Linked DNA regions of Homo sapiens: all the other regions are linked to region 1. Evidence: fine-mapped expression QTL. A gene starts in region 1. Each other region holds a variant in brackets. All regions are shown on one strand. Distances are from middle to middle.

What was found. PIP is the estimated chance that this variant, and not a neighbour inherited with it, causes the effect. A credible set is the group of variants that fine-mapping cannot tell apart.
Region 2: its variant is the best candidate, but not a certain one, in a credible set for the expression of TMEM121B in cerebellar hemisphere (GTEx, PIP 0.88).
Region 3: its variant is the best candidate, but not a certain one, in a credible set for the expression of TMEM121B in whole blood (INTERVAL, PIP 0.79).

Annotation. Positions count from the first base shown.
Region 1 is chr22:17,116,481-17,127,291 of GRCh38, forward strand. It overlaps TMEM121B (transmembrane protein 121B), which reads right to left and starts at 4,880. Exons shown (of 1, transcript NM_031890.4): 1 at 1-4,880. The coding sequence starts at 4,647. The coding sequence ends at 2,911. LINC01664 (long intergenic non-protein coding RNA 1664) reads left to right here and starts at 5,115. Exons shown (of 4, transcript NR_103793.1): 1 at 5,115-5,559; 2 at 8,175-8,291. RefSeq lists a silencer at 4,592-4,721 and an enhancer at 5,307-5,838.
Region 2 is chr22:17,176,326-17,187,136 of GRCh38, forward strand. ADA2 (adenosine deaminase 2) reads right to left here. Exons shown (of 10, transcript NM_001282225.2): 8 at 6,279-6,436; 9 at 5,495-5,697; 10 at 2,465-5,251. The coding sequence ends at 5,158. Among named protein-coding and RNA genes, the nearest start is that of HDHD5-AS1, 22 kb to the left of the region's middle. The variant G/T (reference allele first, on the strand shown) is at 5,912.
Region 3 is chr22:17,095,362-17,100,361 of GRCh38, forward strand. It overlaps IL17RA (interleukin 17 receptor A), which reads left to right. Exons shown (of 13, transcript NM_014339.7): 2 at 1,701-1,725; 3 at 2,436-2,582; 4 at 3,414-3,526; 5 at 4,994-5,000. Among named protein-coding and RNA genes, the nearest start is that of IL17RA, 13 kb to the left of the region's middle. The variant A/C (reference allele first, on the strand shown) is at 2,762.

The DNA.
Region 1 (10,811 bases):
TTTAGAGAGGGTCTAGTCTTTTTAAAATAAGTAAGGATTTGGGGACTAACAGAGAGGAAGCCCCTGACTTGCTGAATTGTTAGGAGCAGGCGGTTCTCGAGATTCTGAGCCCAGGATCCTTTTCTGTGAACCATGCACGTGCTGGCACTGGCCTCAGGAGACAGTGCCCTGCCTTGGCTGTCAGGTCCACGGAGAAATCTCAGGTTTGCCCCTTCACTAGGGATGCCCTAGAAAGCAAGGGCAAAGGAAGCTTTAGGGGTCATCGTGACTGGGGCAGGGGAAGTGAGTGCAAGGACTCAAGAAAAACACAGCAGAGGAAGGGACTGACCCTCTGAGCACACAGTGGTTGACCCACATGTGTAAAAGAGGGTGACTGGGGCTGAACTGGGGGCCTGATATCTGCCAGAATTGGCCAAGTTGCCATCAGCTTCTTGACATATCCAGGGAAGTGGCAGCTCATTGGAACTTATCACAGCCTCCCACCAAAAACCTAACAAACAGTACAGAGATTTTACAGTCAGGGAGGCCCAGCAGGAGATGGCCATCCAAACAATAGAAGGGGGGCAGATCAGGGGGCCAGCCAGCGGCTGGCCATGGCTCAGACACAATGTCCTTTCACAGTCACTGAGATTAGGTAGCAGAGAAACACAGCAAAGCTGGAGAGAGGACATGGGAACAGCGAGCAGCTGTTGGTACCCACCCAGGGCCCAGGCCCCAGAACCTTGAGTACAATCAAAGGGAGAGGAGAGGAGTCAGTGGGGGCAGGGGAAGAAGGCAGAAAAAAATACCAATTAAGTGTGAAATCCAGCCAGCTATTGGGCCACATAGGGTGAGGGACTGGAAGCACAGATTGTGCATGGAGTGTAAACATTTTCCCCCGCTGTTCCCTGCTCTGAGAGCATGAGGAGGCTCAAGAGAACTCTGGTCAAGCCTTCTGCCCCTCTTATGTCTGTCTACAAGGGTGTCTTCTGCTCCAAGCCCCCAAAACAGTTGTAAGAGGGGGCTTCAAGTGGGAGGCGGGGGCTTGGCCTGGGTGCTGAGTTAACGGCCAGTGACTTGGCACTTCTGACCCTCCCTGTGCACTCTGCAGCTGTGCCAGGCCCTGCCCCACACCCAGCCCAGGCACCCAAGCCCTCCCTCCGGCCTTCTCTGCTGGGGCTTCACACACCCAGTACAGAGCAGGGAATGTTCTGCAAGTGCAGCCTGGCTGGCTTCTCTCCCAGCCACCTTTACAGGGAGCATCAGGACCAGGGCTTTCAAGAGCCACAAACTCAAAAGAATGTGAGAGCTGAAATTACCTTCAACCTTAGAGATCACTCATCTAACTTCTACTTTTTTAATGTGAGAAAACAGGCCCAGGAAATAAAAATATGTCACTCAAAGCCAATGAGTGACAGAATCAGAACTAGAATCCACATCTTCTGGTAACTCGTCTAGAGTTTGTTACACTACATAAAACTTCCCAAACGTAAGAAGGGAGAAGGGGAAACAAAAATTCTTCAAGTTTCACCCCCACCACATCCTGTTGAGGGTGGAGGGAAGTGAGTATTTCCTGGCCTTGTTAGCTGCTGTCCTCCTGCACCCTTAAAATATGTAAAAATACTTATCCTGCCTCAAAGACTGCAAGAGTGACATTCCACACCGACTGTAAGTGCACAGTCCCCGGATGTCTCTTGTCATCACCCTCAATGAGAGGAAGAGGGAAAGTTCTGCAGCCTGCCTTGGCCCTAGTGAGACTCTTAACCAGACCAGAGGTGGGAGGTCACCACCTCACTTTCTGATCTACACTTCCTAGAGGAAGGACAGGTGGGGAATGGGGCTTCCTACTCCCTTGGGCCCATGGGAGGCCCAACTTCACATCCATCCAGGAAACCCACCAAAGCTATTACTCTAAGCCCAGATCCGACCCAGTCGGCACCAAACCACAGGAAGGATAAGAGTTCTAGGTGCAGAGGGAGGAACAGAGAGAGGCCAAGCCAATGGCTGATACTCCGCAGACCCTGTAATAACACTGGCACCAAACCCCAGCTGGAGCCAGTGGCCATGGCAAATGCAACTTCTGAGTATTTTGTCTTCATTTTTTGCAAGCAGCATCAGTGCATGATGCAACAAAAGTTGAAAGCACGGAGGTAGAAATGCTCACTCACCCAAGAAAGGGTGCAGTTTGGTCCTTAGAGAATGGATCCCCTCCTCTCCCTGAGCTGAGAAGAGAGGAGCAGTATTGAGGAAGATCCTGGGTGAGATTCTCCCTTCAAGGGGAGTACCTGGGCAGCTCCCAGGGGCCCAGCTCTTCCTGGGAATTCATGGTCACAAATCCAGGCAGAAAAGAGGAGGGTGGTGATAAGTATGGTGTAGGGGGCAGGGCCTCCCCAGATCTCCTACCCATTGCAAAGGGCCACAGGGTGGACACGAGAAAACAACACTACACACACAGAGACATACACTTTGTATCTATCACCTGGAAGAAATCCAAGAGACACATCAGTGGAAAGTGGGTTCTGGGTCAATTTCAAGGCATGGGACAATGGCCACTAACCACAGCCTAAAAGAGGCTGGCACTTCTAAGCAAGGGAGAAGGTCCAAGGCCCAGCACCCCTCTCCTCCTAATGGATGGGAATTAGAGTGGAGGTGGGCAAAGCAAGAAGCAGAGGTACCAGCCCCTTGGAGGTCAGGATTGGGGTAGGATAGGAGAAGAGAGGAGAGGGTAAGTGCACCTACCTCCCTCACCGTTAACTGCTGGTCTCCCTCCAAGCCGTCCTCACCCCAGGGTGCAGAAGAACACCCTGGCCCTTAGCCCTGAAAAGGGTTACCTCTTCCAAATAGACCCTGATCAAATCTAGGTGACAGAAGGTAGAAGACAAGGGGGTTGGGGACTCTCAACCCAAAAACAAGGACCCGTGCCCTTCACCCTCAATTCTGAGAGGCCACAGCCAGGGTGTTGACATAGCCATGAGCACCCCCCTCGTTCTCCGAGATGCAGTGGCCCAGCTGGGAGCCTCCCTGAGGTGGTGGCGGAGGTGGTGGAGGGGCGGAGGGCGGAGCACCGTAGCCCCCTCTGGCCCGACTCGGGGAGGCCCGATTGCCCCGGTCCCAGCAGCCCTCCAGGGCCTCCAGGCCCCGGCAGCCGAGGAAGAAGAGGTTCTTGAGCATGAAGATGGAGAGGGGCTGCTGGTAGCTGACCACCAGGAGGCAGCGCAGCGCCAGCAAGGGCACGTCCACCAGGCAGCCGCCCAGCAGGCGCAGAAGGCGGCTGCAGCTGCCAGGCCCGGAGGCCTGGCCCCAGGATGCAGCCGCTGCGGCCGCGGCGTTGAGCTCGTAGAGCCAGAGCACCGGCGAGGCGAGGGTGAGGAAGTAGACGGCGATAAGCAGGTAGCGCAGGTGCGCGGGCAGCGGCACGCGGCCCTCCAGCATCAGCTCCACCAGCGTGAAGCTGTCGAGCAGGTCCAAGCACGTGCCCAGGAAGCATCCGGCCGCGCGGTGCCGCTGGGGCTGCAGCAGCAGGGGTCCTGCCGATCCCGGGGGCGCGCCCGCCTCGCTGATGGCCCGCACCAAGCTGTAGAGCAGGGGCACCGACAGCGCCATGGTGAGACGGAAGCCCGTGGTGCCGAAGGGCGCGCGTAGCTCGATGAGGTCTAGGATGGACGTGCCCAGGATCAGCACCACCTTGGGAGTGAAGGCGATGGAGTAGATAAGCCAGGCCAGGTAGGCGAAGGCGAACTCGCCCGCTGCCGCGGCCGCCCCCAGGCCGCCCCCCGCGCCGCCGGCGCCCCCGCGGGCTCCGCGTGCCTTGGCCCCAGCGGTAGCGGCCGAGGGGGCGGGCAGATGCAGGGGCGGCGCGGCGTGGTGGTGGTGCAGGTGGTGGTTGTGCGCGCCGCTGGCTGCGCCGCCCCGACGGCCCCGGCTGTTCTTGGCGAAGAAGATGGCCCAGCCCACCACCACCACCAGGTCAGTGGCGATCCAGGAGCACCAGTACAGGTCGGTGACGGCGATGAGGTACAGGTCCAGCAGGCCGCCCTGCGCCAGCAGCAGCACCACGGACAGCGCCTGGTAGCCCCAGCGGCACCTGGGACTGGGGGCGCAGCCGCGGCGCCGACCTCTGCGGCCGGGGCGGTCTGGGCAGCCGCAGCAGCAGCAACACGGGCAGCAGGAGGCGCCGCTGCCGGTCCCGGTGCCGCCCGCGCCCCCCGCCGAGCGGCTCCCGGGGCCCCCGACGGCCCCGGCCGCGGCGCCCCCGCCGAAGTCCGCGGCTGTCATGCTGCAGGAGGAGGTGGGCGTGGAGGTGGAGGAGGAGGTGGCCGCTGAGGAGGAGAAGGCGACAGGCGCGGGGCCGGCGGGGGCGCCCACCTGAGCCGGCGGCCCCAGGAGCGCGGCGTTGGGCACCAGCGGCTTGCTGACGCTGAGGCTCTCGTCGTCGTCCTCGCGCTCGGCGCCCGTGCTGCTGCTCGGGGAGCCGCCGCCCCCGCCGCGTCTGCCGCCGCCTCCCCCGCGGCTGGTGCTGGTGCTGGTGCTGCTGTCGCCGGAGCCTCTCCGGCCGCGGAAGGAGCCCCCGCGGAGGAAGAGGGGCTGCAGCCGGGCGGCTGCCGGGGGCGGCGGGAAGGAACCGGACGCGGAGGAGACCGAGCGAGGGTGGCCGAGCGCCGGGCGCATTGTCCTCCGAGGGGCTCTGGGGCCGCCCAGCTGTTCCCTCCCCGCCAACCCCGGGCGGGCGAGGCGGGCTAGGCGGCCGAGGGGAGCCGGGGCCCGCCGCCTCCCCAGCAGTGGGGACTCGCACCTGGGCCGGGCGGCGGCGAGATCCGGACTGGAGCCACTGGACTGGGCGAGCCGGGCCGGGCGGCAGGGAGAGGGGGCAGGCGGTGAACCGAGCGGACCGCGGTGAAGACAGGCGAGGCGGGGGCGGGGCGGGGCGGGGCGGGGAGCGAGTCCCGCCGGGAGGGAGGGAGGCTGGCGGCGGGGAAACCAGGACTGGATTCGAGGGGGAGAGGAAGCAGCGAGACCAGAGGAGGAGAAAGCGCGGCGCGCTGGATCAACGGGAAGAGAAGGGGCGGGGGTGCAGTGCGTCACAGTCGGGTCGGGAGCCCTGTGGCCTGGAGGAAGCGGGAGGAGGCGCGGGCAGCCGCCAGGGCGAGGCGACCCGGTGCGGGGGGACTCCCATGGAGCGCGGACTCCTAAGGAAGTCGCTGGGAATCCCACCGGCTGTACCGCAGGGCGTTAGTACCTAGATGGCTTCGGTGCCCCCAAGCGATGGGCTCAAGCTACAGGGCGGGCTTTGCACCTGGCCTTCTCAGCTCTGAGGCAGGCAGTGGGCAGCTTCGCCTCCACCCTCCGTCCAGCGCCCTTCCCATGGGGCCATCCGCCTCTCCCTAAGGCACTAAAAACCAGTGGAGGAGTCAGGCCATGTTGGCAAAAAGGGCTCGGGCAGCAGCCCCAGACCTATAGTCCTAAATATCCATGTACCCAGCCCTGGGGTCGCGAGCCATCTCAGGGACGACCCGATTCCAGCGGATGGAGAAGTTCCCTGAAAACACCTGCCTGGGAGGAGAGACGAGGGAACGAGATTGGGCAAGTGGCATCCGCCCAGCGGGCTTCTCAAAGGTTTTTAAAGCAGAATGGGACGTAATAGGAAGATGTGTCTAGCAGAGAGTAAAATAAAGGGGCATTTAGAGGTGTGGGCACCTGGATGAAAACAAAGGCTCCAAAGGGATGATGGTGAGGGTTACAGCCCACCACAGTAGACAGAGACACCAAGGAAGGAATGCAGTCAGTGGCCCTGCGTAGACAGTCTCAGGAGAGAGCACACCAGCTCACCCCAGGACTCATCCAAGGCTGGGGATGGATGTCGATGCAGCAACTCTGGAAGGCAGAAGGTAGAGTGCTGCCTTTAGGGGTTTAAGGGAGAAGGAAATGACTAGAGCAGTTGGGGCTCAAAAACAATCTGAGGTTCACCAATAATGGAAACATCCCATTCCCAGCCCCATGAAAACAAGGCAGAAAGCTTGCCTGCCCTATTGGCCTCTGCACCCTTGTGGGGCCTGTGGGCTCCCTGATTTCATGACCTTTGAAGCTGCTGCTGCGGGCTCATCTCCCCTAGGTAACAGCTTGCAGCGTGATAACACCATGCAGTGTGAGGGAGCTGTATGCAGTGGAGCCGCAGGGGTTAGTCAGGCCTCGCCCCTAAATCTGCCTCTTAAATAAGAGTCCGTTTCAGCCAAACCTGCCTTTTCCAGTTCCGTGGAGGTCAGTCTGCACAGCCAATCCCTGGTAAATATACAATTTAGAACCTGCACCATCTCCACCTCCCCCACACACACCACTTTTGGAAAGCTGGCATGGTGGTGAGGGCAGGAGCTCTGGGGCCGCCATCCCACCTGTGCCACTTAACACCTTTGTGGTCTTAGCCTGAATATTTCACCTCAGAATGTTGATCTGTAAACAGGACCCCACCCCAGCCGGGCGCGGTGGCTCACGCCTGTAATCCCAGCACTTTGGGAGGCCGAGGCGGGCGGATCACCTGAGGTCGGGAGTTTGAGACCAGCCTGACCAACATGGAGAAACCCCATCTCCACTAAAAGTACAAAACTAGCCGGGCATGGTGATAATCCCAGCAATTTGGGAGGCAGAGGCGGGCAGATCACCTGAGGTCAGGAGTTTGAGACCAGCCTGGCCAACACAGTGAAACTCCGCCTCTACTAATAATACGAAAATTAGCCAGGGGTGGTGGCACGCACCTGTAATCCCAGCTACTCGGGAGGCTGAGGCAGGAGAATCGCTTGAACCCGGGAGGCAGAGGTTGCAGTGAGCCAAGATTGTGCCATTGCACTCCTGCCTGGGCAACAAGAATAAAACTCCATCTCAAAAAAAAAAAAAAAAGGACCTCACTCCTACCTTAAGGGATTGTTGTGAGTATGAAGAGAGATCATGTGTGTAATCTCTCTTCGATGACAGAGCCAGTCCCTGGCTCAGAGTCCATGCTCAGTTAAAGGTCTCTGTGTTATCATCATTCCATTAGCCCATGCCTTAGCCTCCCAGGGAACATCGACTCATAGCAGGGGCCACCAATGGCTGTTTTCTGCCTGGACTCTTGAGTTCTGCTCCCCAGTAGCGTTGCACTTTGGTAAGTGCCCAGGAACAAAGCTGCCATGGTTAGGAGCACTGATTCTTGGAGCCGGTCTTCTCAGGCTCACAGTGTGAGACATTCAGGGTGCCAGTTGGGGCCAGGGTCCACCCATGTGGGGCAGGGTGAGGTCAGGAGTTCAAGACCAGCCTGATCAATATGGTGTTTCACCAATACTCCGTCTGGGGGGAAAGCAAACAAACAAACACTTCAGTCCTACCTGAGGTGCCCAAAAATAAACAAACAAACAAAAAACCTGGCCGGGCACATTTGAGATCAGCCTGGGCAAGATAGCAAGACCTCATCTCTAAAAATAATTTTTTTTTTCAAGACAGAATCTTGCTCTATCCCCCAGGCTGTAGTGCAGTGGTGCGATCTCGGCTCACTGCAACCTCCGCCTCCCGGGTTCAAGCGATTCTCATGCCTCAGCCTCCCAAGTAGCTGGGAATACAGGCGCCCGCCACCACACCTGGCTCATTTTTGTATTTTTAGTAGAGACAGGGTTTCTCCATGTTGGTCAGGCTGGTCCCGAACTCCCGACCTCAGGTGATCTGCACGCCTCAGCCTCCCAAAGTGCTGGGATTACAGGCATGAGCCACCACACCTGGCCATAAAAATAATTTTTTTTTTAAGTAGCCAGACGTGGTGGCATGTGCCTGTGACTCCTAGCCACCCAGGAGGCTAAAGTGGGAGGGTCATTTGAGGCCAGGAGTTCGAAGTTACAATGAGCTATGATCATGCCACTGTACTCCAGCTTGGGTGACAGAGCAAGACCCTGTCTCAAAGAAAAGAAAAGAAACCTTTAGATTTCAAGTATATAGTAGTCCTCCCTTTATCCATGAGGGATTCATTCCAAGACCTCCAGTGGATGCCTGAAACTGAAGATATACATATACTATGTTTATTTTCCTATACATACCTATGATAAAGTTTAATTTATAAATTAGGTACCATAAGAGATTAAGAATAGTAACTAATAATAGAACAATTATAACAATATATTATAATAAAAGTGTATGTGAATGTGGTGCCTCTCTATCTCAAAATATCTTAATATTTTCAGACAGTGCTTTACCATGGAACTGAAACCATGAAAAGTGAAACTGCAAATGGGAGAGACTGCTGTATAGTCACTGAAAAATTAATGGATGAGCTCAACAGCAAATTAGACACAACTGAAGTGAGTAAATTTAACAATATATATGAAGACATTCTCTAGAATGTAGTACAGAGAGCTAGAGACTGAAAATATCTAGGAGACAAGAGACATGAGAGATAGATTGGAATATCCAAAATATGTCTAACAGAAGCTCCAGAAGGAGAATATAAAACAATAAGGGAAGGACAATACAGAAATTTGAACTGAGAATTTTCCAAAATTGGTGAAAGAACTTCTCCAACCCACAGATTTAGGAATTGCAATGAATCCTAAACAGGATGAATAAAAATAAACATGCTCCGAGATGTTTTCAAGTAAAATTGTAGAACTCTAGACAAGAAAAAGATCTTAAGAGAAATCAAACAGTAAAAAAAAAATTACTTACAACAAACAACAATTAGATTAATGGCAGACTTCTCATCAGAAATAACAGAAGTCAGAATGCAGTGGATGGTAGAAATAAAGCTAAATAATCAGTAATCACAATAGATGTCATATTAAACGACACATGATCAGATGGATTTTTTTTAAATGTCCAGTTATAGGCTTTTATAAGAAATATCCCATGGCCTGGCATGGTGGTTCACGCCTGTAATCCTAGCACTTTGGGAGACTGAGGCAGAAGGAACCCTCAAGCCCAGACTGGGCAACAAAATGAGATGCCATTTCTACCAAAAAAAAAAAAAACCATTTTTTTTTTTGAGGGACGCAGGTTTTGTTTTTGTTTTTGTTTTTTTTAATGGAGTTTCACTCTCGTTGCCCAGGCTGGAGGGCAATGGTGAGATCTCAGCTCACCACAACCTCCTCCTCCCAGGTTCAAGCGATTCTTCTGCCTCAGCCTCCCGAGTAGCTGGGATTACAGGCATGCGCCAACACACCCAGCTAATTTTGTAATTTTAGTAGAGACGGGGTTTCTCCATGTTGGTCAGGCTGATCTCGAACTCCTGACCTCAGGTGATCCTCCCACCTCGGCCTCCCAAAGTGCTGGGATTACAGGCGTGAGCCACCATGCCCGGCCTTCAAAAAATCGTTTTTAATTAGCCAGGTGTAGTGATACATGCCTGTAGTCCCAGCTAGTCAGAAGGCTGAAGTGGGAGGATCCCTTGAGCCCAGGAGTTGGAGGTTGCAGTGAGCTATGATCACGCCATTGCACCCCAGCCTGGGTGACAGAGCAAGACCCTGTCTCAAAAATAAATAAATAAAAGAAAAAGAGAAACATCCCTAAAATATAAAGACAAACAAAGTAAAAAAGGGCTGAAGAAAAAATACACAAATATAATTTAATGCATGTATATAATTAAACTAGGCAAATATCAACTTTAAAAAGTGGGTTTGGCAATATTAATACCAAAAAAATAAACTATATGACAAAGAATATTCTTAGGGATAAAGAAGTTCACTATGTAATGATAGAAGACAGTACACCATAGTAGTGAAGGGCACATACTCTATAGCCAGACTACCTGGATTCAAACCCTGACTCCACCATTTAGTTTTATTTTATTTTTATTTATTTTTTTTATTTTTTGGAGACGGAGCCTCACTTTGTCACCCAGGCTCGAGTGCAGTGGCACGATCTCGGCTCACTGCAACCTCTTCCTCCCAGGTTCAAGCAATTCTCCTGTCTCAGCCTCCCAAGTAGCTGGGATTATAGGCGCCCGTCACCACACCCAGCTAATTTTTTTTTGTATTTTTAGTAGAGACAGAGTTTCACCATGTTGGCCAGGCTGTTCTTGAACTCCTGACCTCAGGTGATCTGCCCACCTCGGCCTCCCAAAGTGCGGGGATTACAGGCATGAGCCACCGCGCCTGGCTGACTCCACCATTTAGAAGCTGAGTGACCTTAGGCAAATTACTTAATCTCTCTTTCCTTGATTTTCCCACTAGAAAATGGGGAAAATAATAGTACCCACTTCACAGAGTTGTTATGAGGAGTAAATGAATTAATAGATAGAAAGTGCTCAGCACAAAGTGCTATATACATATTTGCTGCTGTAAAAGGACCAAGTTCCAGAAAGACCATAGTTCTGAATGTGTGTGTATTCAATAACATTGCCCTAAAATATATAAATAAAAATGGGTAATATTTATGAGACACTGGCAAATAACCTAATGATAGTAAGAAATATAAACACATCTCTCAGTAATTGATAGTTCACACAGATAAAACATTGGTACAGATGTATACAAGTTGAACCATATCATTAACAAGCTTGATCTAAATGGCTGAATTTAGAGCTCTGTACCTCCAAAACTAGATACTACACATTGTTTACAATTTTACATGCAACATTTACAAAGCCTGACCATGTACAGACCAATCCTTTGACCTCACAACAATTAGATTAGAATAAAATAACAAAACAACGACCAACCACCCCCCACATATTTGGAAGTGTAAAGACATACTTCCAAATGAATCATCCAAAAATTAGAAAATATTTAGAACTAAATGAACATGAAAATACCACCTGTCAAAATGGATGGGACATAGCCAAAGCAGAAGAAGAACATTTATAGCTTTAAATGTTTGTGTTACAA
Region 2 (10,811 bases), 60 kb after region 1:
TAGCTAGGATTACAGGCGTGCGCCACCATGCCTGGCTAATCTTGTATTTTTAGTAGAGACGGGGTTTCCCCATGTTGGTCAGGCTGGTCTCAAACTTCTGACCTCAGGTGATCCGCCCGCCTCGGCCTCCCAAAGTGCTGGGATTAAAGATGTGAGCCACCACGCCTGGCCCCATAAATTTTTATTTTTGTTTCAAACCACTACGTTTTGGGATAATTTGCTACACAGCAATAAACGGAACAGCAACCATGATAGTAATAGCAGATTTAGACAAAAGTCCTCAGTGGATGCAAGCACTAATGGGTAAAGTTTTAAGGAGGAGTGAAGACTTTTACATAAAGTGTCTCCTCTCCAAATATGTGTTAATTACTAAGGGAAAAATGGTAACTTCGCAATGGCAAATTCTGGCAGAAATCAACTTAAGCGATCAAAGTCAGTATCATATTGAGACAAATTAACATTGTATGCATCAGTATGCTGGCAAATGTGTAACAGCTGGCTGGTGGGGACATGGATTTGTAACATTTGCTGATTTTTGTGGCACAAAAACTCCCACAAGCCTGGTGTCGTGGCTCATGCCTGTAATCCCAGCACTTTGGGAAGCCGAGGCGGGAGGATGGATTGAGGCCAGGAGTTTGAGACAGGCTAGACAGTATAGCATGATCCCATCTCTACAAAAAGTAAAAAGAAAGAAAACTTAGCCGAGGTGGCGGTGCACGCCTGTAGTCCCAACTACTTTGGATGCTGGGCAGGAGGATTGCTTGAGCCCAGGAGGTAGTGGCTACAATGAACAGCGATCCTGCCACTGCACTCTAGCCTAGGCAATGGAGTGAGACCCCTGTCTCAAAAAAAAAAAAAAAAAAATTCCCATCAAGACCAATTCCAGACTCCTAAAGGTTTAACAACAAGCTGGAAGTATAACACTTGGCCCCATTCATGTGCCCCTGGTGTGTACACTGAGAAGGACAAAGCCTCGCTGCCAAGGTGCTCCTCTCAAAAAGGTATCCCCTGAGCCTCTTCCTAGGGAAACATTAGATGAACCTGAAATGAGGGATAGTCTATGAAGTAACTGGCCTGTACTCTTCAAAAATGAGGTTCCAAAACACAAAGGAAGACTAAGAAGCTATTTCAGACTGAAAGAGACTAGAGAGTTGACAGCTAAATGTAACTTGTGATCCTGGATTGGGTTCTGGACCAAGAACAAAACAAAACAAAGCTCAGCAGGGCCAGAGCCAGATACTAGCGTCTTTTCAATGTTAATACTTTTCTGATTTGATTGGATGTACTGTGGCTCCATAGGAGAATGTCACTGTCTTTAGGAAATGTGCACTGGAGAATCTAGGAATAAAAGGCATAATATCTGCAACTTAGTCTCGAGTGGTTAAAAAAAATAGGATATATAGAGAGAGCAATTAGAAACAGAGAAAGAATGATATATGGAATCAAATGTTGTAAAATGTTAATAACTGGGGGAACCTGGGCAAAGAGAATGTTAGAGGTTTGTGTTGTTGTTGTTGTTATTTTTGTTTGTTTTTTTGAGACAGGGTCTCGCTTTATTGGCCAGGCTGGAGTGGAGTGGTGTGATCTCAGTTCACTACAACCTCCTCTTCCTGGGCTCAAGCAATCCTCCCACCTCAGCCTTCTGAATAGCTAGGACCACAGGCACACCCCACCATGCCCAGCTAATTTTTGTATTTTTAGTAGAGATGAGGTCTGGCCATGTTGCCCAAGCTGGTCTCAAACTCCTGGGCTCAAGCAATCCACTCGCCTCGGCCTCTCAAAGTGCTGGGATGACAGGCGTGACCCCCTGTGCCTGGCCTGGTAAGAGTTTTTTGTACTATTCTTGCAACTTTTTGAAATTATTTCAAAATGATCAGATAAATGCTCCATGGACATTTAGTTCAATAGGACTAGGCCTATGCAATGAGGAATAAAGTCAAGAAGGAAGAACTAACAAGCTTTGTAAGTTGAATTTAAAAGCTTAAAGACTGGATGTGGTGGCTAGTGCCTGTAATCCCAGGTATCCAGGAGGCTGAGGCAGGAGGATAACTTGAGGCCATAGTTTGAGATCAGTTGATCAGCCTGAGCAACATAGTGAGACACTGTCTCCAAAAAAAAAAAAAAAAAAAAAAAAGGCCGGGTGTGGCAGCTCACACCTGTAATCCCAGCACTTTGGGAGGCCGAGGCGGGCAGATCATGAGGTCAGGAGTTCAAGACCAGCCTAGCCAACACAGTGAAACCCCGTCTCTACTAAAAATACAAAAATTAGCCAGGCGTGATGGCAGGTGCCTGTAAACCCAGCTACTCGAGAGGCTGAGGCAGAAGAATTGCTTGAACCCGGGAGGCAGAGGTTGCAGTTAGCCAAGGTCGCGCCACTGCCCTCCAGCCTGGGCAACAGACACTCTGTCTCAAAAAAAAAAAAAAAAAAAAAAAAAGAAGGAAGAACTGGACACAAAGCACAAAGGCAAGACTATTGCTGGTTCATTTTGCCAAATCAGAGATCACAGCAAGTCCAGGCCAGAGGCTGTTTGCGTCTGCCTGTGTTGGAGGTCCCCTGCGCAGTTGGGACCTAAAAGATCTTCAGGGATTGGGTAAGGCACTGAATCACCTGCAGAGTTAGACAGGACCCTAGAGGTTGTCTTCTTCCATCCAGGCACAGCTTATGGTTGCTGTTTTTTCCCAGTTCCAGGAACCAAATGGTGATAAACTAGGAATGGAGAGAGGGCTTGCTGCTGTCTGAGAGCTCAGGTACAGGTCATGGAAGATGGATGAGAGGACATTCGCCTGGGGCTTTTGAGGAATTCTTTGATTCCCTGCCATCCTTGAGTTGGGTGAGGACAGAGGTGGCTTCTTGCATCCTTCTTCCAAGGCCAGGTGAGGAGCTGGACTCTGATCACATGAGGTCTTTTATTTGGGGCGGCTCTGCTCTACTCCCCTCTGCCTTGGCAGCTGGCTGAACAGACACAGTGACAGCCACTCATTCAATGCATTGTTTATTGAGTACTAACTAGCTTTGGGCCCAGGCTCTGGGTTAGCAGCATGCGTGAAACAATCAGAAACAATCATGAGCGCCTGCCCACATGGGGCATACAGTCTGGCAGGGCAAGACTGTAGACACAGAAATAAATATCCGATTATAAGCTGTGATTAGAGGCATGATGGAAAAGAGCAAGGCTTCCTGAGAGAAACAGGGCGAGCACAGGAAAACCTCTCTGAGACAGTGACATGAACTTGAAACTTGAAGGGTAAACAGGAGTGGGCAAGACAAAAGGGGAAAGAAGGAATCTTCCAGGCAGAGAGAAAGAGAAAAGACCCAGGCACGGTATAGAGCCGAGGACATTTGAGGAAGAAAGGGCCGCCGGGGTTGGGGCCCTCTGGGTGACTGGGAGAGGAAGGCGCCGGAATGGATCCAGATTAAATCGGATGCTGTATGCCCTGTGGAGACATGGGGTGTACCTCTAAACGCACTGCGTTGTAAGCAAAGGAGTGACCTGATTTAATTTGATCTTTTAAAAGTCATTCTAGGCCAGGCCGGGTGGCTCACGCCTGTAATCCCAGTGCTTTGGGAGGCCGAGGCGGGTGGACCACGAGGTCAGGTGTTCGAGACCAGCCTGGCCAACATAGTGAAACCCCATCTCTACTAAAAATACAAAAATTATCCGGGCATGGTGGTGCATGCCTGTAATCCCAGCTACTCAGGAGGCTGAGGCACGAGAATCCGCTTGAACCCGGGAGGTGGAGGTTGCAGTGAGCCGAGATCGCACCGCTGCACTCCACCCTGGGCAACAGAGCGAGACTCCATCTCAAACAAAACAAAACAAACAAACAAAATGTCATTCTACACTGTGAAAAATGAGCTGGAGGAGGCAAAGGGAAGAAAGGGGAGATCAGTGAGGAGGCTGTTGTCATAGCTCAGGCAGGAGTATGGTAGCTTGGACTTGGCAACAGCGTGCAGGTAGAGCACCACCGCTGGAGTCTGGATGCGGGATGCATTCTGATGTAGGGAGTGGGGGACCGCGCAGCATCAAGAAGCCACCGCTGGAGTCCAGATGAGGGATGCGTTCTGATGTAGGGAGTGGGGGACGGCGCAGCATCAAGACTTGCACTGAAAATTTCTGCTTTGAGCAACTGCGTGGAATGGATGGAGGTGTCCTTCACCAGCTATGGGAAAGGCCAGGGAAAGGTTTAAAGGGCTGAGTGTGGTGGCTCATGTCAGTAATCCCAGCACTTCGGGAGACTGCGGCAGGAGGATCACTTGAGTTGGAGACCAGCCTGGGCAACATAGCAAGACACTCTTTAGAAAAATTAAAGTAGAGAAAAAGAAAGGTTTAAAGGGAAGAGACTGAGGGTTCAGAATTGTACCTCATCAGTTTCTGAGATTCCTGTGAGCTCTCCAAGTGCATAAATAAATGTGGGAATCATTAACAAATAAATGGTATGAAAAAGCAAAGGAATGGATGAGACCACCCAGGAAAAGTGTACAGAGAGAGAAGAGAAATAAAGAGGAGAGAGTTAAAGAGACCAGAATAGGCCAGGCATGGTGGCTAATGCCTGTAATTCCAGCACTTTGGGAGCCAAGGGGCGAGTGGATCACCTGAGGTCAAGAGTTGGATACCAGCCTCGCCAACATGGTGAAAACCTGTCTCTACTAAAAATGCAAAAATCAGCTGGGTGTGGTGGCACATGCCTATAATTCCAACTACTCGCGAGGCTGATGCAAGAGAATTGCCTGAACCCGGGTGGCGGAGGTTGCACTGAGCTGAGATCGCACCATTGTACTCCAGCCTGGGCAACAAGAGCAAAACTCCATCTCGAAAAAATACAAAAATAAAAAAATAAAGAGACCAGAATAGAAGAGAGCCCAGGACTGAGTCCTGAGGAAACAGCACAGAGATCAGAGAGAGGAGAAGACTCTGAAATAGGGAAACTGGAAGAAATGGCCAGAGACAGGAGAAAACCAAGAGGGTCAATGTCACTGTGGCTGAGAGAGAATATTTCCAGAGGATGAATTTGCTCAGCCAGCCAAGTGCTTCTCACAGGGTCGCTCCATACAGAGGCCATTGATTTCATGGGCACATGGAGCTGATTCAAGAACGAGTGAGAGGAAGTGACAGCGTGTGCAAGAAGACAGCTTGTAGAGGGCTGGCTAGCTTCTCCTCACTTTGTAGCCACATCTGCTATGAACTTATCCCATCTCTTCTTCCAGATTTCCATGAAAGTATTTTTCTCACTCTCCAACAGGGTACTGTACCTGCAGGAAGAGGAGGAGCCCAGGTCAGCCTCAGGGCAGGGGTTGGGGAACGGGGCAGGGAGCCTGAGAGGACATTAGAGCCTTGCAGAGCACTCTCCCCAGGCCAGCAGCAAGGACTAAACAGCCATGATGAGAAGGAACCCACAGGAACCATCGAGGCATCTGCCTCAAGCCTCCAGAGAGGCAAACACAAGCTGCGGGCTGGAAGGAGGCGGGGGACCTGGGAGGACACAGGACACTCACTTGATAGAGTTCATGGCCAGCTGTTTGAGGGTCCTCAGGTCAGCCTTCATCCCCCCAATGCCCATGAAGACCTCATAGAAATCATAGGACAAGCCTTTGGCACCAAACATAGCTGGGTCATCAGAGCTGATCACCATGGGGTGCCCAGTGGCCATCAGAGTGGCTACAGGGTGGTTCCTCAAGTCAGACACCAGTTTCAGCACCTGCGCAATAGGAGGGAAGGGAGAAAGATGAACTCTGATCCCTAAAAAGAGTAGTCACAAGTGAGGTGAGACCTTGAGCCCCATCAGCTCCCTTCATCTTCCCATCACTATCTCCCCAGTATGGGGATGACTTCTGGGCAGAGTCACAAGGAGACATAAGGAACAGAGCCAGTCCTTATGCTCCTCCTCATGTTTCATCAGCACTGCAAACATC[G/T]GGTCACTTCTGTTCCTGCTCAGAGAAGCGCTAACTGAACACAGACACAAAGGACCCCAAGAAACCATGGGGAGCAGCATCCCATGGTCCGTCCCACTTCACTGGCCTCCCCCCATGTCCTTTTTGCTTTGTCTACAGTCTTGCCCAAAATTCCACCCCACTGGGGACCCTCACTGCTGCCTCATTCTTATTGGTGGCTTAGGCAAAAGGCCCCTCCTGAATAACTTTACTAACAGGGGTAGGAGAGTGGAGGGATGTAGGTAACAAGAGAGTTAAGGAGAGATAAGTTATACAGCAAAAAGTTTAAGAGAGCAGAGGTTGTGGTTAGGGGAGATCATATGGGATTAGCCACATGGGTCACACATACCTGGTTAGAGATGGGACAGACTTCTATGGGGATGTCCTTTTTCCAGGAGTAAGTCCTGACTGCGGGGTGTTTGCTCAAAGCAAATCCATGGCCGATTCTGGTAGTGTTCAGCATCAGAGCATCCAGAATGTTCCTGTCTATGGAAGTACCCTGCCAGTCTGAACACACGGGAATGGTCTTCCATGGGGGATGGATGGGTCTGGTCTTCCATGGGGGATGGATGGGTCTGACCCACCCGCCCCCCGACCATCCTCAAATAAACAGCCCCCCAAGCACAAAAATGAAGAGAAATTAACATTAACACAAATACACACACACAGTTTCCTTTTAACAATGCTAAAGAGAGGTATGATATGGCTTTATTAAATTAATCATCTAATTTATTAATTTATCATTCTAATGAGAAAGTTGAAACTTAATAGCTTCTATAAATTGACCAAGGATGTTCACACAGTAAGTAGCAAAACCGAGTTTTTTGTTGTTGTTGTTGTTGTTTTTTGAGACACAGTCTTGCTCTGTCGCCAGGCTGGAGTACAGTGGCACGATCTCAGCTCACTGCAACCTCCACCTCCCAGGTTCAAACAATTTTCCTGCCTCAGCCTCCTGAGTAGCTGGGACTACGGGCACACGCCACCACGCCCAGATAATTTTTTGTATTTTTAGTAGAGACAGGGTTTCACCATGTTGGCCAGGATGGTCTTGATTTCTTGACCTCGTGATCCACCTGCCTCAGCCTCCCAAAGTGCTGGGATTACAGGCGTGAGCCGCCGCACCTGGCCTGCAAAACTGAGTTTTAAACCTTCGTCTCTCTGACCCCACAGTCCGCTTTCCTTCTTCCTCTTTTGTGGCACTCTTTTTTTTTTTTTTTTTTTTTTGAGACGGAGTCTTGCTCTGTCGCCCAGGCTGGAATGCAGTGGCGTAATCTTGGCTCACTGCAACCTCCGCCTCCCGGGTTCAAGCGGATTCTCCTGCCTCAGCCTCCTGAGTAGCTGGGATTACAGGTGCCCACCACCATGCCCGGCTATTTTTTGTATTTTTAGTAGAGACGGGGTTTCACCATGTCGGCCAGGCCGGTCTCAAACTCCTGACCTCAGGGGATCCACCCGCCTAGGCCTCCCAAAGTGCTGTGATTATAGGCATGAGCCACCGCACCGGGCTCTGGGACTCTTATGCTTATGATCTTTACAACAATATGTTACAGGTTCTCTTATTGACAACATCAGTATAACTACCTGTATGTGCTCACTTTAATTTATATATTTAATAGTACTGTCAAGATGTTATCACTCGCTAGATGACCGCAGACAGTCTTGTGGCCTCCCTTCTCCCCTGCCATCCCCATCACACCTTTCTTTTTTTTTTTTTTTTTTTTTGAGATGGAGTCTCGCTCTGTCACCCAGGCTGGAGTGCAGTGGTGCAGTCTCGGCTCACTGCAAGCTCCACTTCCCGGGGTTCATGCCATTCTCCTGCCTCAGCCTCCCAAGTAGCTGGGACTACAGGCGCCCGCCACCACACCCAGCTGATTTTTTTTTTTGTATTTTTAGTAGAGACAGGGTTTCACTGTGTTAGCCAGGATGGTCTCGATCACCTGACCTTGTGATCCACCTGCCTCAGCCTCCCAAAGTGCTGGGATTACAGGCGTGAGCCACCACGCCCGGCCCCATCACACCTTTCTTGCAGCTAGGGCCCTCGGTAGAGGATGAAAGGTCAGATGTGCCTTTCTCAGTCTCCCTTACAGCTAAAATAGCCTTAACGCTGGACTGGGAGGTTATTTGTTGGGGAGCTTTGGGGGATTCCTCCCTGATAAAAGGGGATCCACTGGGAGGCTGTCTCCTATTTTGCTTCACTGGATGTGGTCACCCCAAATGTGATTCACCATCCGACAACCAAGTGGGGCAGAATCACCCACACAATGGGCATAGCACAGATTGCTTCTTACGTGAGATAACAAATGTCCTTATTGTAAAATCGGTGGGATGCATGTACTCTATTCTTGCAGCCATAAGCATTCTAATGGATTCACATATAAAATATGAACATCTGGCTGGGTGCGGTGGCTCACACCTGTAATCGCAGCACTTTGGGAGGCTGAGGCAGGAGGATTGCTTGAGCCCAGGAGTTCAAGGCCAGCCATGGGCAACATAGAGACACCCTGTCTCTACAAAAAATACAAAAATTAGCCAGGCATGGTGGCATGTGGCTGCAGTCCCAGCTACTTAGGAGGCTGAGGTGGAAGGATAACCTGAACCCAGGAGGTGGAGGCTGTAGTGAGCTGTGATCACGCCACCACACTCTAGCCTGGGTGACAGAGGTGGAGGCTGTAGTGAGCTGTCATCACACCACCGCACTCTAGCCTGGGTGACAGAGTGCCCATGTCAAAATATATATATATATATATATATATGAAAACTCCACTTTCCTGATAGAAATAAAACTCAAGAATTTCCATTGCTATGTAGCACATGTGTTTTGGTGGATTTTCACTGGTTTTTAAAGATTTCTTTTTCTTTTTAAAAATAAGGATATTGGCCGGGTGTGGTGGCTCACACCTGTAATCCCACCACTTTGGGAGGCCGAGGTGGGCGGATCACGAGGTTAGGAGTTCCGGACCAGCATGACCAACATGGTGAAACCCCGTCTCTACTAAAAATACAAAAAATATTAGCCGGGCGTGGTGGCAGGCGCCCGAGTAGTCCCAGCTACTCGGGAGGCTGAGGCAGGAGAATGGCGTGAACCTGGGAGGCGGAGCTTGCAGTGAGTTGAGATCGTGCCACTGCACTCCAGCCTGGGGACAGAGCGAGACTCCGTCTCAAAAAATAAAATAAAATAAAATAAAATAAAATAAAAAAATAAAAATAAGGACATTACTTTTAGGTATTAGATACCCAAGTCCTGGCAAAATCATCTCCAAGGACCATACATCTTGGAACCTGTTAGGTCCTGAGCTGCAATGTTTTGTAGGGCCAGAATTATTTCACACACATAAGTATGATTTTCCCCAACCAGACCACAAGCTCTTCAAGGTTAACAACACCCTCGCCCAACCCCCTCCCCCTCAAACAATTCTTCTGCTCTCCTAGAGCAGACTTTGATCTAAATTGGATCTAAATTGACTCGAAATGTCAGGAAAAAGAGATTAATGCACAAGGTCCCTTTCTCTGAGAGAAGGTGTGATAGAGCAGAGCTTAAGCCTGGGTGGGAAATGAAATTGCCCACCACTCTCTCCACCCCTCTTTGGTCTTCCGAGGGTGACAGGTGGGATGCTGAAGAGAGCTGCCCTCCTGGTCCCGGCCTCCATGTGAACAGCCTCCTCCCAAATCTTCCTTTGGATCTGAAATTGCAGCCGTGATCTTTCTTAGTTAGGGTTTACACATTTTAAGGACTGGAATACGGGAGGGGCTGAGATGACTGAGCGAGCCCAAGGATGGAGTTCTGGGAAAGAAAGATGTGGCTGGGCTGATGGCGTTTCAGGAGGAACAGCAGCCAGGGCCTGCATGGGGCAGGGCAGGGTTTCCTCTCCTACGATAATGCGGGACAGAACATCCTAAAGACAAGGAGCAGACCTGGTTCTCCTCCCTCTTCTGCCAATTTCCAGCTGTGTGGCTTTAGGCAGATCAGTTAACCTCTCAAGCACAATTCACTCGGAGGATGGAGAGCGTCAGAAAGTGTTCCAATTCATACACATTATATACAGGCATCAAAATATCACATGAGGCCGGGTAATCCCAGCACTTTGGGAGGCCAAGGCGGGTGGATTGTTTGAGGTTGGGAGTTCAAGACCAGCCTGGGCCAACATGGTGAAACCCTATCCCTATTAAAAATACAAAAATTAGCCGGGTGTGTTGGTGGGCGCCTGTAATCCCAGCTACTCGGGAGGCTGAGGCACGAGAATCACTTGAACCTGGCAGCCAGAGGTTGCAGTGAGCCGAGATCGCACCACTGCACTCCAGCCTGGGCGATACAGTAAGACTCTGTCTCAAAAGAATTTTTTTCCGTGGCTCAAGCCTGTAATCCCAGCATTTTGGGAGGCTGAGGTGGGTGGATCACTTGAGGTCAGGAGTTCAAGACCAGCCTAACCAACATGGTGAAACCCCATCTCTACTAAAAATACAAAAATTAGCTAGGCATGGTGGTGCATGCCCGTAATCCCAGCTTCTCCAGAGGCTGAGGCAGAAGAATCACTTGAACCCGGGAGGCAGAGGTTGCAGTGAGCCAAGATCGCACCACTGCACTCCAGCCTGGGTGACAGAGTGAGACTCCATCTCAAAAAACAAAAAAATTGACCAGGTGCAGTGGCTCACACCTGTAATCCCAGCACTTTGGGAGGCCTAGACGGGTGGATCACAAGGTCAGGCGATCGAGACCATCCTGGCTAACACAGTGAAACCTCGTCTCTACTAAAAATACAAAAAATTAGCCGGGCGTGGTGGCGGGCACCTGTAGTCCCAGCTACTTGGGAGGCTGAGGCAGGAGAATGGCATGAACCCAGGAAGCCGAGCTTGCAAGTGAGCCGAGATCATACCACTGCACTCC
Region 3 (5,000 bases), 24 kb before region 1:
TCCCTCCATCTCGGGAATGAGAGGACACCTGCCTGCACCACTGGGAATCAACCAAGTGTGTTGTCAGACCCTTCCACTTTCCTTGTGGTCTTCATGAAGACAAGAGCTTTTCATCATGGGCATCATCCTGCAGTGTTATTGAGTAGCTCCCAGTGGCTAGTAGGAAGTTACTCCAAATGATGTATCTGTTTGCCTTCTCTAGAAGAGTTCCCCATCTCAAGGTGAAATAACCGCTTTTTTTTTATCCTCCACATCCTAGGAATTTTAAGGGAGAGGAAAAATGAGAGGACTCAGGGGAGTTAATCTTCTCGCCATTTAGGAAAGAGTGACATTTATTAGTGTGAGCCTAGGCAGCCAGATGGATTTTGTTGGGAACATGTGCGGAGCCCCCTAGTGGGGTGGTGATGCTAGCCCGGGACCTGTAGGGGAGAATTCAGGAGCTGAACAGGGCGAGAAGCACTTATGAACTGGGGTCCCAGAGAAGGAGGGTCCAGGTGAAATAGCTTGCTAGAGTCAATCCTAGGTGCGTGCAGATGTCATCCTGTGTGTGACCACTCTGTAAATGAACCCTGGTGGCACGGGGTCTTCTCCTGTGCTTAGCCCTACCTCTCTGTTCCCTCTCAAGAGAGAGGAGGGTGTCAGCCCTGGCACCCTACTCACACCAGTCACTTTGTTGGCCTTGAGATTGTGTTTCTGGTCTGCCTCAGCATCTGACTTTCCACCCCGGGATGCGTTTGGTCTGTTTTGCCAGTTAGAGAACTGGAGACACCTGAGCCTGAGCTCCTTCCTAATGGTTACATTTCCCTGGTAGCATTTGTCACTAGGGCTTCTAAATTTGGCCATCAGGATTTCCTCAGGCTTGGAAGGTTAACACATACTGCCCAAGAGGGAGGCAATATAATGTAACATGGGTGCCTCAGCTTCCTCATCTGCAGAATGGGCTGAGGATAATACCTCGTCACGATCACCCGGAACAGGGCCTGGCATACTTTACCTAGCGACTTTGTAGGGACTTAGTGAATGTTCCCCAACAGATCTGTCACAGAAACTGTAAATATTGCCCTTCACCCCTTCCGCACCTCTTGCAGCAGTGTTATCCAGGAAGGTTGGAAACCTTAGGAGATGAAGGGGCCCTTTTCTCAGGGCACTCCAAGAGAACCCTCTCAGTGTCTTTTAAAATTGTCAAGGTCCCAGCTCATAGCAGTTCCTCATAAAATACCATTCCTGTGCCGGGCGCGGTGGCTCACGCTTGTAATCCCAGCACTTTGGGAGGCCGAGGCAGGCGGATCACGAGGTCAGGAGATCGAGATCATCCTGGCTAACACAGTGAAATCCCGTCTCTACTAAAAACACAAAAAAGTAGCCGGGCGTGGTGGCGGGCGCCTGTAGTCCCAGCTACCTGGGAGGCCGAGGCAGGAGAATGGCGTGAACCCGGGAGGCGGAGCTTGCAGTGAGCTGAGATCGCGCCACTGCACTCCAGCCTGGGCGACAGAGCAAGACTCCATCTCAAAAAAAAAAAAAAAAAAGCACCATTCCCTTTGCCATCCCCTGGACTCACTCCTCATCCTATTCCCCAAAAAGTGAGAAGGGCAGGCTGTGTAGATGGCATTCCTGAGAATGAGCCAGTGGAGAGCATCTGGCCCTGGCATGTGAATTCAAGCCTTTTCCCAGCTGTAATAACCACCCTCTTTTTTCCACAGGGGCTAAACTGCACGGTCAAGAATAGTAAGTCATCTTTTTCTGTTCTTCTTCTTGTTGCCTTCTTAATCAAGTGAGAGCCTGCTGCCAACTTCTGACAGAAGTCTTGCCATGCCACTCCAGGTTCAGGCTGTGAGCTACAGCCATCCGCAGGAGGGTTCCCGGAGAATTGTGGATGCGTGCACCTGCGCTTCCTGTCGAGAACATTCATTATGCAAAAGTCAGGAAAGGAGAAACAGAACTGTCATTTGGATTGTGAAAGTATTCTCTGGGGAGCTGCCCTACTGTATCTATAATATAATTTGATTTGCCACAGCTTGTCACTGTAAAGTGAGAGACATCTGTGCTGTTGATTTTGTTTTGTTTTAATTCAAAGAGGCACATATTCAAGTGTCTGAGCCAATTAGAGACCCCTGACATATAACAATAAAGCAGCTCTTACTACAACTGCATCCCTCCTGTGCCCTTATTCCCAATCACAACTTCTTCTCAAAATCAACTTGTGTACTTTGTCTTCTCTCCTAAAATTCCCTTTAGACTTGAGAGGTTTGCAGTGACCCCAGTAAACATTAGAGAAGAGGGAGCAGGGCAGTAAAGCTGAGGACGCGGCCAAGGGCCACAGGCTGGAAGGCCGCGGGCCCCTGAGCTGTTTGCTGTCTAGCTGTCTGTACCTGCTGCTGGGGCATCTCAGGGTCTCGGCTATAAGTCTCTGAATGTTGCTTTTCCCTGGCTGCCAGGTACCTGCCTGGATGACAGCTGGATTCACCCTCGAAACCTGACCCCCTCCTCCCCAAAGGACCTGCAGATCCAGCTGCACTTTGCCCACACCCAACAAGGAGACCTGTTCCCCGTGGCTCACATCGAATGGACACTGCAGACAGACGGTGAGTGGGCATGCCAGCAGGGCCCTGGGGGATTCTCCCTGCCTCCAAGTGGCTCTCCCAGTCAGGCTCAGGATTGGGCTCCCAGTCCTGTGCTCAGACATGGGGGTTCAAATTTAGTGCTATAAGGATCCGTCATTTCATGCAGTCAAATACTTGTTCAGCATTTTAGATATTAACCC[A/C]CAGTGATACCTTCTCATCACACCATTCTTCATGAAAGGACTTCCTTCAACCTAATATTTTTAGCACCCTGAGGGGAAAAAAAAGCAAGCAGTTAATTTTGTGACTACAGTACCAAAAATGAAGTGGAAAATGGTAACACATTTGTCAACCTGTTCCCTGAATTTAGGGGCCAGCACTTTTAAAACGTCCCCCAAGCCTATTCAGGAATGGAGAGTTTATGTTACAGAATTGGGACGATTGGGGCTTATGAGCACTAGCCCCAGATTTGTGAACGGGGCATGGGGGAAGTTCTTTTTGGAAGTCCCCGCCCTCAGTGCTCCTGCTGACAGCCACAACCTCGTGAGGATGGTGGGGATGGCTGTGTTTGACACCCATGCCAGATTGTCAAAGCCCTCACCACAAGTTTGCAAAGCCTTTACTTCTAGCCCAGTGTAAAGTGTCATTTTTCCTTGCCCAGCTGGGAAATAACTGTCTGCAAGGCGGTAGGCTGAGGCCAGAGAGTGAACTGAAAGGAACAGGATGTGGAGAGTTGGGTAAGACGGCAGATTTTCTTTTAGGAGTGAACAACCGCAACAGATAGGGAAGTGACACACCCAGCACTTGTCTTGGCTGATCTGCATCTGTTTGTCTTCTCTTCTCCCTCTCCTGCAGCCAGCATCCTGTACCTCGAGGGTGCAGAGTTATCTGTCCTGCAGCTGAACACCAATGAACGTTTGTGCGTCAGGTTTGAGTTTCTGTCCAAACTGAGGCATCACCACAGGCGGGTAAGAACACAGCTCCTGAGTGGATTATGTTCCACTGATGACACCAGTACAGACTTCTTGTCCCCAAATTCAGACCCTGATTTAGAGTGGGGGAGACCCAGAGGTGCTGAGGGAGTCTGTGGAATTCAGAATGGCAGCCTGAGATGGGCAGAAGTCAAAAGAGAAGTGGTGTGGCCGCCGTGAGCAATAGTGAGGGACAGAGCGTATTTTTGAAAGCGTCCCTCACCTGCTCACCCCTGGTTTTTCTTCCCACTTTACCTAGCTATTCGTTCGGAAAGGAAGTTGAATTGGAAGGCAGCTTCCACAGCCCTACCTCCTGCCATCTTTGTGTAACTTTGTGTAACATCTTTTATGTGTAACTTGGATTCAGCTGGGGCCTACCTTCAGGAAGAAAAAACCGCCCAGACCAAAGAACTGCTGTAGGTGGGCAAATGAGCACTACAACAGCTTAGTCTCATTTTGCTGCTCACAGCTAAATGGTGAAATGTTGATTCTTGTTTAAGTTTGTTTAAAGCAGTGGGTCTCAAAGTGTGGTCCGTAGACCAGCAGCCTCAGCCTCACCTGGGAACGTGGTAGAGATGTTTGGCCCCACCCCAGACTTCCCAGGCCAGAAACTCTTAGGGTGGGGTCCAGCAACTGGTGCTTAACCCTTAAGTCATCACGATGCGAGCCTTAGTTTGAAGACTACTGGTTTAAATCTGCAAATGGTCACTTGAAAACAAGTTAGATCTCCCACAAACTCAAGCAGCAAAGGCAGAACCCCTCTCCGATGTTAAATTAGGACCCCCAAACTTGACTGCTATGCGAATGGTGAGAACCAGGTTCCTCCGTCCACTTAGAAGCAAAGGACCCCGGCCCCTCCACCAGGGTAACTAGAATGGGGGTTGGAGTCGATGTCTGTAATCTCTAACACCCAGAAAATAACTTAGCACAAATTCAAATATCATTGCAACTGAGGTGCCTGCTGGCCCAGGGTGAGTGGGGGTCTCTAGCTTGTCCTTTGCACCTTTTTACTCCATAATGGTCTCAAGAGGTTCCTGGCTTTTCCGTTTGAGGAGGAAGAATCATTTGACAAATAGTTTTTACCTGCCTGGCGTGTGCCAGATCTCCATAGCCCCAAGTCCCCTGGCTCCGCCCTCTCATACCCATTGTCCTAGAATTTGAGAGGGCAGGTGGGAGGGGTGGGACTACTTCCACTTTCCCCAAATTCTTTTGCCTTATTCACTGTCTACTGATGAGGCCAGATCCAGGTTTAAAAAAAAAAAAAAAAAAAACAGGCAGAAAGGACCAGAGGAAACAAAAAACAAAGATACTGATTTCCCTGACCTTGGATTTTGCTGTGGTTGTTGCTTTGTTCTTATTTTTGGCTGAATATTCGGGAGTGGGTGGGAACGGGGGTCTTTGGGCATAGATGGGTGACAGAGGTGTGTGTAATCCATCCACCTTCCCTTCCTCCCTTCTCTTCAGTGGCGTT